2 separate regions of the Homo sapiens genome follow, and region 1 is linked to region 2. A link means that fine-mapping ties the variant in region 2 to the expression of a gene that starts in the linked region. Tissue or cell type: whole blood. Region 2 holds a variant in brackets; the other region holds the start of a gene. Each region is shown on its reference strand, or each on the opposite one.

The links. PIP is the estimated chance that this variant, and not a neighbour inherited with it, causes the effect.
Region 1: SLC38A11 starts here. The variant in region 2 is the best candidate, but not a certain one, in a credible set for the expression of SLC38A11 in whole blood (TOPMed, PIP 0.57).

What each region holds. Positions count from the first base shown.
Region 1 is chr2:164,953,227-164,958,614 of GRCh38, reverse strand. SLC38A11 (solute carrier family 38 member 11) reads left to right here and starts at 3,090. Exons shown (of 12, transcript NM_001351537.2): 1 at 3,090-3,406; 2 at 3,870-3,984. The coding sequence starts at 3,368.
Region 2 is chr3:188,287,396-188,292,783 of GRCh38, reverse strand. All of the region lies in intron 2 of LPP (LIM domain containing preferred translocation partner in lipoma), which reads right to left. Among named protein-coding and RNA genes, the nearest start is that of FLJ42393, 110 kb to the right of the region's middle. RefSeq lists a silencer at 1,849-2,143 and an enhancer at 1,849-2,143. The variant C/G (reference allele first, on the strand shown) is at 2,883.

The DNA.
Region 1 (5,388 bases), not on the chromosome of region 2:
AGATTGTGTACATTTTTCTCTTTGGTTGGATTTATTCCTTAGTATTAGATATTCTCTGACACTATTATATATTTTTTAATTACAATATCTAGTTGTTTGCTGTTGCTGTAGAGAAATTAATATATTTTTAGTCTAATCTTATACTAATCAGCTCTCTAAACTCTCTATTTCTAATTTTTTTCTCTTAGATTATTTTGGATTTTTCTATATAAACAATTTTATCATCTAAAAATGATGACAGTTTTATTTTTAGCTTTCCAATTCTCATACCTCTGATTTCTCTTTTATTTCTTATTACTTTAGGAACTCCAATATCAAGTTAAATAAAAGTCACAATCATTGATTTTTTTCACTTCTGATTAAATGGGAATGCTTCCAAAACTTCCCCATAACGAAAATACTTTGCTATAGTTTATCACTATCAGGAAGTTGTATTATATTTTTGATTTACAAAGTTTTTTTAAAATCAAGAATTCAACATTATCAAGTGTTTTTCCTGAATATAGTGAAATAATAACATGGCTTTTTCTTACCTGCTAATGTTGGAAATTATATTTATAAACTTTTTGTTAACTAAGCCATCCTTTCATAGTTGGACTATATTCAACTTTTTTATGATATTGTTAACTTTTCGTGAACAGACAGATTCAATTTGCTAATATTTTCCTTGGAATTTTTGCATATATATATTTTTGAGTAAAATAGGGTTATAATTTTTCCTTCTCAATGCACTTGTATCAGGATTAAGATTACTAATATTAAAACTGTAACTTCACAGAATTAAAAAAAAATTTGAAAGAGAGAAGATGGGAGAAGATATGTACAAAACATATAACTGACACAGGGTTGCCACCCCAAATATATAAATTATGCTTACAAATCAATAGAAAAAATTCACAACCAAAATCAAAAGAGCAAAAAAAAATGAAATTCACAAACAGAACAATGGAAATATTTAATTACTATATAAAAGATCTTCCACCTCAATGTAAATTAGGATAAAATACAAATCTATACAATAATTATACACCACTTAAAAATCCAGCAGAACAATTAAACTTAAAAAATAGATTAAGTAAGTCCTGGTGTTACAGACAATGTAGAAAAACAAGAATTTCACCTCTGTTGGTAGAAGTGAAATTCATGTTATCAATTTGCAAAGCAATTCAAAAATATTTAATGAAGGCCAGGCACAGTGGCTCACACCTGTAATCCCAGCACTTTGGGAGGCCGAGGAGGGTGGATCACCTGAGGTCAGGAGTTCAAGACCAGCCTGGCCAACATGGTGAAACCCCATCTCTACTAAAAATACAAAAACTTAGCCGGGCGTGGTGGCAGGCACCTGTATTCCCAGCTACTCCTGAGGCTGAGGCAAGAGAATCATTTGAACCCAGGAGGCAGAAGTTACAGTAAGCCCAGGTCACACCATTGCACTCCAGCCTGGGCAACAAAAGCGAAACTCCATCTCAATAATAATAATAATGATAATGAAGTTGAAAGTGTGCATGACCTACTACCTAACACTTCTACATCTAGAGAAATTGTCACTTTTATGCTCTGGAAGAGTGTAAAACGAGAAACAACCTTAATATCTTTCAGTAGGGGAAGGCTGACTTAACTGTTAGATAAAATGAAAAAAAAATCTGCATATATCTACATCATACATGCTGAAAACAAAAATGCCAGTGGAAAAATAACATGTACAATATGGCACCATCTTTGTAAATGTTGAAAATACAAAAGCCAATGTTATATATTGTTTATGGCTATAAATGAACGGATTAAAATACAAAGTATGAATAGCAAAGATAACACTAACTTGATGAACCGATGACTCCAGGGCTGAAGGCCTGGGGAAAGGAATGGAGAAGGTCAAGGGGGTTCCTATTGTGACATTGTGTTTACTTTTACAATTTGAAGAAAATATGACAGCATGTTAACATTTGATGGCAGAGTGTATATAAAGTTTATAAGTCTTTTGTTTTCCCACGGTTTTTAATTTTTTTTCTTAATTATAAGTAAACATGTATGAAACAGAACCTCTTTAATTAGGTACAGTTGGCCTCTATATCCCCACTTCTGCATCCATGCATTAAACCAATCCCAGATCAAAAATGTAGTTAGGGCTAGGATGGATGTGTCTATACTGAACACATATGGACTTTTTTCTTATTTCCTAAACAATACAGTATAACAACAAGTAAATAGCATTTACATTGTATTAGGTATTATAAATAATCTAGAGATGATTTAAAGTATGCTGGAGGATGTGCCTAGGTTACATGTAAATACCATGCTGTTTACTATCAAGGACCTGAGCATTCCTGGATTTCAGTATCTGCAGGGGTTCCAGAACCAATCCCCTATGGATATCAAGGGAAGGCAGAATTTGTTAAGTATGATGGCATATCACCGCTCTTATTGCCCCTGAAACTGTTGTCTCATGCATTCTGTCTCTGATATTGAATACTCTCTGGGCTTGTTGCTTCATCTGTAATGTAAGAGGACTGAATAGGTGGTCATTGAAGATTCTTTCTAGCTCAGGCACTGTAGGTGCCACCCCTTTCCCAAACCCTTGTACTCCTCTTTCCCTTTTCAAGGTTCATTACCTGAATGCAGTAACAATCCACCTTCATTTTCTCTATCGCTCCTTTTTCTAAAAGTTACCAGGAAGCGTTTGACCAAAGCATGCTCAGTAGTCAAGTTTGCTAAAACCCTAGGAAAGTTTTTTGTTTTGCTATTCATTTTCTTATGAGTCTTTCCATTTCCATTTACAATAAAAGTCCCAAATTTTCACTCGTCGTCTCTGCCATTGAAGAGGGGTAGCGAGGAGGAGGTGCTAATAGGGAAGATGGCCCATGGGCCCAAGGGTGCTTCTGCGTTCTTACCTGGGCTTCAGACCCCAGCAAAGGAGAAGCTAACTTAGGAACGGACTGCAACGAGGCGGTCATAACTCTGTGAGATCGGGGCAGGGCAGCGTGGGTGGAACAAGTTGTCCTCTGCAGCTCCAGGGAAGAGTAGCTCTCCCTGTTCTCTCAGGGAGGCGGGGGTGTGAAGGGGGGAGGCGGGGAGACAGGGCTGCCCGGATCAGAAACATCCTGCAGCATCTCCGTCTCCGGAGGAAAAATACATTTGTCTGGGCGAACTCCGGTGGAAAAGCGCCCCAGGCTGCCACAGCCTAGAGATCTTGGGGCTGCAGCCCTCGCGGCCTGCCGAGGGAGCAGGGGGCGCCCGTGGAACTGGCTCCCTGCAGCTCTGCGGCTACACGCGGACCTCGGCTGTGTGCGAGGTGGCGGAGGAGGCTGGCCGGGTGCGAATCCGTACCCAGCCCCAGCATCTTCCACCTGCTGAGGACCACCGCTCAGCCATGGGCTACCAGAGGCAGGAGCCTGTCATCCCGCCGCAGGTAAAACTAGCGACTAGGCAGGTTCTGAAGCCAGTTGTCCGGAAATTTCATTCACCTTGCAACAGGTCAGGTCACCTACCTTCACCTGGGCTCTTGGTTTAGCACCGCGAAAAGTTCTCTGGGACAAAAAGTTTTGCCTTAATCTGACTTTTTTTTTTTTTTTTCTTAGCAGGCACTTTAATTTCACAAAATCACATCACTGAATTCCTAACAGATCCTGTACTTAGCAGCTGGGGCAGCTGTAATCTGGAAATTTTAGGATGGAGTTTGCTTACCAAGCTCTGTTGAATTACTAGCTGTTATTGTTATTCTTTATTACTGTTATCCCGGCATTTATTTTATTTTCATTAGTGACATTACTTATTATTACTAGAAAATCGTGTTAGTATCCTGCATTACATATTTGTTACTTTTCTAATTTTCTGAACTAGTATTTGCTTATAATTGCTATTTTATCTATTAGAGAGATTTAGATGACAGAGAAACCCTTGTTTCTGAACATGAGTATAAAGAGAAAACCTGTCAGTCTGCTGCTCTTTTTAATGTTGTCAACTCGATTATAGGATCTGGTATAATAGGTAAGTGTATTTGCTTTGGTTTAAATTTTAAGTGAAAGGGCAAAATTTAAGACTCGCTACGCTGCTAGTGTTCATTAATTATTTTTAAAGAAAAAAAGACTTAAATAAGAAAATTGGTAATTTTCTTCCATAAAAGGCTTCCTTTTTTTCTAGTGTAACAGTATGTATGCATGTCTTTTATGCTGAAGATGGGGCTGTAATTCACACTGTTTCCACAGTTGAGAGCATCTTCCACATGTGGTAGATTAAGGTGAAACTGCATATGGGTGGTGGTGAATCATTTTTCTGTAGGCTGCGTGGTTGATTGCTAGTGTTACCGAATGTACTTTTTCCACTTACTGAAGGGTCCATCATTATTTGAATCATCTTTCTTTAACTTTCTAGAAGTATAAAACTTCCAGATATTTGTAAATGTTGGAGGTGAAAAGTTTAATATGAAAACATACCAATCTTATGAAAAATTAAATTCATACATTCTTTACCTATCTATACAGTGTTAAATTTTAAAGTACAAAATTATTACAATATATTAATTTTAAATATTATTTAGTCAACAATGCAAATTTGTTCATTGAAAATGCGTATTATTTTCCTAATAAAGGAGCCATACAATCAGAATTAAAATAAATAAATAGCTCAGATTTTTCCATTGTATTAGAAGCAAGGGAAATTTACTGAAAAAAGTTAAAAGTGCATTGCATTATAGTAATAAAAGCAGCTATATTTTCAGTGGTTATTATTCTTTTTGGTATCTGAAAACACTCTATCTCAGAAAAGACAAGAAGAAAACAAAATCCTGCAAAATGCAATACTTTTTGAGAATACAATGTTTTATAAAGTTGCAACATTTTTGTTTCTGTCATCACCTTCTGAAAATTAAACATTTATCTGGATTGAGTTACTTTTCTTACTCTTGAATTACTTTTCTTACTTTTCACAAGTTAATATGGTTCTTGATTTTACATTTTTCTATGGATAGTCTTTTTTTTTTCTCCAAATGATACATAAAATGGAGTTACCTGAGGTAAAGTAGAAGGAAACAGGGACAAAGACTTGTTTACAATTCTACCTCCATGTACCATGAAGGTATGAGCAGCTGTACTTAGAAGAATTCTAGAGCTAATTCCTGATGTGAACGTGTTAAGTTAAGCCGTGTCAGCAATGCTAAACAGTACCACTGCTCAGCAGCTTGTTTTCTTTTCTTTAAGGGAAAACTTTTCAGAGAATAAAAATTTTGACTGGAAATACGTTAACTGTGTTTGTTTTAAATATTTTATTGTCCATAATCTAAAGTTGTCAATTTCCCCCAAAATTATAAGAAATAATTTATGTACCCCTTTGAGCATTATAAAAAATACTTTCGCCTTCTCATTTTTCTCTCATTTTTTTCCTACATAGTAGCCC
Region 2 (5,388 bases):
AGCATGCTTTTCAAGACACTATCAGGAAGCTGGTAATTCACTGAGAATTGCCACCTAAGAAACCATGTAGTGTAAATAAAAGAAATAGATTTCCAAAACCTATGTCAGGTAAACCATACTCTAGTACATGATGCTAATAATACAGCACTAGGCTTATTGGGTACCATGTGTGTAAGAGATTCAAAGGCATTTTCCAAAGAGAATTCAATCCTTCCCACCTCCCAAGCAAGTATAGTGCAGACCCTTAAGTCATCAGGAAACTTAAGAGCATATTCCATCCCTCTTGCTCTATATTCTGACGACATGTCCAGTCTTCCAGATAAAGGCACTCTGCAATCAGAACTAGATGTTTGAGTCATGCTTCTGTTTTTTGGAGTGTAGAGGTATTGACCACCTTAGATCCAACTCATGAAACAGATTAAGTTTTCACACAGTCCAAAAATAATTGATATGCTTAATGAGAACTTATTTCACTTAAAATTTCTACCAGCATGAAACCCTCTGTAATATGCCCATCCAGTTTGTACATCAGTAGAAGTGCTCCTCTTTAAATTCATATAGCAAGTTTGCACATCCTGTTTCCTAATTACCTCATGCAAAAAAGGAATTGTACCTTCACTTCTCTTGTTCATTAAAGCAAGGTTCACGAAATGCTTTGACATTTGATTTTTGAAAAACACATGCTGGTTTAACCGAAGGTCCTAGAGACTCATTGCTGTTTAAACTTGGGGAGAAACAAGATGGTATCAAATCACAGTTAACTTTTTAACTGATCTGTTTAAAGAAAATTAAAATGGGCATTTTTAAGATATATTACAACTCTATATAATCTGACAGTACTTGGTAAGAATTACCTCCTTACAATCAAATCAGGGTGGTGGAGCAGAAAGCACCCTAGAGTCAAATGTTCTGGGTTTGCATCCAGAACTGCTTTAAGAAAACTTATTTCACTTCTCTGAACCACAGATCCACCATTTCTAAAAGGGAAATAATGATAAACCCTGCCTTGCCTACATCATAGAGATGTCATAAAGCACACATAAGAAAATGGGTACTTAAGTGTTTTGAAAGCTACAAGCCCCCCACACAAGGTAAGGTATCATCTTAATGTCCTTTCTCTTTTTTTTTTTTTTTTTTTGAGACAGAGTCTCGCTCTGTCGCCCAGGCTGGAGTGCAGTGGCATGATCTCAGCTCACTGCAAGCTCCGCCTCCTGGGTTCACACCATTATCCTGCCTCAGCCTCCCGAGTAGCTGGGACTACAGGCGCCCACCACCATGCCCGGCTAATTTTTTTTTCTTTCTATTTTTAGTAGAGATGGGGTTTCACCGTGTTAGCCAGGATGGTCTCGATCTCCTGACCTCGTGATCCACCCGCCTGGGCCTGCCAAAGTGCTGGGATTACAGGCGAGAGCCACCACGCCCGGCCAATGTCCTTTCTTATAAAGACATTCTTAATGACATGAAAAACACTTTAGCCTTTCTGTTTATATTTTGAATAAGCCAAAGAAACATCTCAAAATCAACACTACCAATTCCAGGAAGTTTCACAAACACACACGCACACATACACACACAGGCTTTATAAAGATAATTGTTGTTTGGGACAAGAAGCCCAAGAAAGTAAAAGATTCTGAAGAATTGTTCGTCTTAGAGTTCACCTCAGCAACACATCTTTAAAATTAAGTATCATTCAGTGTATTCTTACTCTTTGAAGGTGGGTGAAATACATATGTTAGAATGTATTACCTTTCAAAAAGTGGTATGCCAAATTCCCACCCACCTCCTTCTGATGCTACAGAAACAGTCCAAGGAAGAGGTGGCCCCATTATATCAATGCTTTCTAGAGAAGAGGGAAATGGGAGAGAGCTCTGAGGACAGACCCAGGCATGTGCAGACTGAGGAAAGACAGAACTTGCCCGGAAGACACAGAAAAAATACCAACCAGCAGGCCACCTTTGACCAGTGAATTGACCCTCAGTAGCCACATGGCAACATTCCACTAGGGCAGCTTATCAAGGATGCGGATGCATTCCATTCCCCACACACTCTGTCATCTGAAGTTTACTCGTTCAGATAAACAAAGGTCAAGGACAGAGAAGCCAAGAACTTTTCCAAGGTCATTAGTAGCTGTGTAAATACAACTCCTATGTTCTAAACTAAACTTGCTGATGCTCTTGGAGTGAAGAGGCCGGGAACATGAACAGTCCTAAACTATTCACTGTGTACCTGTCCTTCTCGGTGGCTGTAGTATAATGGAATAGTAAGTGCTACCACTGAAGCACGGCATGCTGTGTGCCAAGCATTGTTCTACATGCTCTACGCATTCTAACTTTGTTAATCCTCACAAGGACCCTATGATGTAAGCCCATTTTATAGATGAAGAAAGTACAGCACTAGAAGTGAAGTTGTTTGTCCAAGGTCACATGATATTATGTGGTAGGATGGATCCAAACCCAAGCAATGTGGCTTCGGCATCTGTCCCTAAACAGTACACAAAACTGCATGTTGAACCGGGCATGGTGGCTCACGTCTGTAATCCCAGCACTTTGGGAGGCTAAGGCAGTCAGACCACTTGAAGTCAGGAGATCGAGACCAGCTTGGCCAACATGGTGAAACCTCGTCTCTATTAAAAATACAAAATAAATTAGTCGGGCATGGTGGCATGCGCCTATAGTCCCAGCTACTCGGGAGGCTGAGGAAGGAGAATCACTTGAACCCGGGAGGCCAAGGTTGCGCCACTGCACTCCATCCTGGGCGATAGGGTAAGACTCCGTCTCAAAAAAAAAACCCTGCATGTTTATGAGCACTTCCAAGATAGGGTGAACTCCCACCATGAACTAGGTACCTTTGCAGACACTCACATACATTTTGTAATTTATTCT[C/G]ATTATGATATTGAGAGAAAGATTTTATAATCCTTTATTCACAGGAAGACACCGAAATCCTAAGAGGTCCTTAAATTGAGGATTTTACAAACACTAAGAAGCATAGTAGGGTTTGAACACCTGTCTGATTTCAAGTTCCATTTTCTCTCTAAACATCCAGGTTCTGCATGAGTTCTGAGGTTCTCTAATCATCATTAGCACTATCTGTCTACGTATGTACCTGCTTATTCGTTTTTTGCCAAGTGGTACCATGAAAAAAACATGTGTTTACAGGGAGACCACAGCAGTTCTACCACTTACCAGCTGAATGACTTGGACAAGTTACTTAGTCTCAATTTCCTCATCTAATGATGAGAACAATAATAACAGTACTGACTATTATCTCAGATCATATTTCATATGATTGTTAAAAAATTACATGAGATGATGTATGTAAAATACAAGAGTGAACATCACATAAGTGCTCAATATTTAGTCAATAAATAATTGAGTGAATTTAAATTTCAATGATGTAACATAAGCAAAAATCCTACTAGAGTTCCTGTTCTAGAATATTCTGTCAAAACCAAGAACATTATTAATGTATCGTTAGTATCCTCTCTAATAGTTTAAACATGTCTTGGGGCTCATAGCCACGTCTGAGCTAGTCTGTAAAACACACAGTGGCCAGCACAGAGCCTTGGATTTTAGACGTGCTATGATTCAATGATTGTATGATCTTTGTTTGAATTTACTGAGAAAAGAAAATCTAAAATGCTAAAATAACTCCTCTCAAAGCTTAGAAGCTTCAGTTGTCCATTTTCACTCAAAACTTTATTCTCAATTTGAAAATTATTACCCATAATTGAAGCCTAAAACCCACTAAAAGGCATCAATTTAATGTTATTTATTTCTGATACATTTCCTAAGAAATAAGGAAGAAAAATGATTTCCCAATCTCCATATTTTAAAATCTTATCTCTATCTTCCCTACAAAAACTTATAACATCATTTATTTTGTTCCAGGTCCTTAACAGATGGTAATCACAAGTGCTTTCCTGATACAGTTGCTAGCTAGAGGGGCGGGGGGGTGGGGGTGGGGGGTGGGGGGTGGAGAGAGAGAGAGAGATTGATTTTAAGAGGCTATTTGGCATCAAGAGAAGTTCATGTGGCAGAAGTATTTCAACCCGGACATCAAATGAAAAACAAATGCAAGAGTACATAATTAACTTTTAGGAAAAGAAAAAGTATGTATGTATGCATAGATGTGTGTGCATAGGTGTGCACGTATGTGTATAGACAGGTGTAGATACACAGATCTGTGTGTATGTGTGTGTGTGTGCACGTGTACATATGGAAAAGGCCAAGGCTCCACCAGGAGCTCTGGACAACGACGTGAAGGGGAGCAATGCTGAGACAGGACTGGAGGCTGGAAGACTAGTTTTTACACCTCCACTTTGCCACTCAACTGCCTCATCTGGAACAAGTCATTTCAACTTGGTTTTCTATTTCTAAGAATGGAGACCTCACGGGACTGGTGTGAGGTTTGAGCAACAAACGAGATCTGAAAGTGTTTTGGAAATGTGTGTACAAGCATAAAGGGACGTTACTACCCGTTTGTTCCAATGCCAAGGAGAGCAACTTTTTGTCTGAGCCAATGTCGCTCACAAGTGGAATCTATTCCCATCACAGCCTGCTTTCGGCAAAGGAAGAAGGGATGTGGACAATTTTCCAAAGAGGCAATGCTTTCTAATTTCTCTATTATTTCCAAAACAAAAAAGCCAAATCTTTCTCCCACTTTTGTTTTTCAAAATAAAAATAAATTATAACCCTAACTTGCTAATAAATGCAGGCTGGAGCTGTCCTTAAGTAAAAGCTTTTGATAACAAATTGCCTGCACTAAATGCTATTTTACTGCTGATTTTTTTATTGTTGCTTAAGCACAGCAATTATGCTAATAAGCCTGGGAGGATGGTACATCCAGCATTGAATCTGACAGATAAAATACTCAATAAAATGCTAATCTCACCTGAAAATTGGAATCAGACAGCCTTATTAGTATTTATGAATATGGCATCTTAAACATGTTTTTTCAGAGATGAATATATATGAAATCAATGTTGTCTCCTAATACAGCCTGCCATTTCTAGGCCTCTATGTGCTCTAAATTCAAGGTGACGATTACTCCTTGCCTTTACTTAGCTTCTTGCCAGAGAAAAAAAGAACTTATTGGCCATCACTACTACATAAAGAATGAAGCAATAAAATGCTTCTTTTTTTCCTTCATCCACCTTCCTACCTCTCTCCTCACCCCACCTCCGCCAGTCCCCCGAAAAAGGGAAGGTAAGAACTGTCTGTCTGAGCAAAGAAAGAAGGCAGATTTGACAGCAACGAGAACCATTTGTCAAACCATCTGGCTTCTCTCTTCACCTGACAGGAGGGAAGAGTGAAGTGTCAGAAAGAGCAGGGAATTGAGAATCCAAAGAGCTGGCTTTTAGTCTTGATTTTGCCATTTCCTCGATGTGTG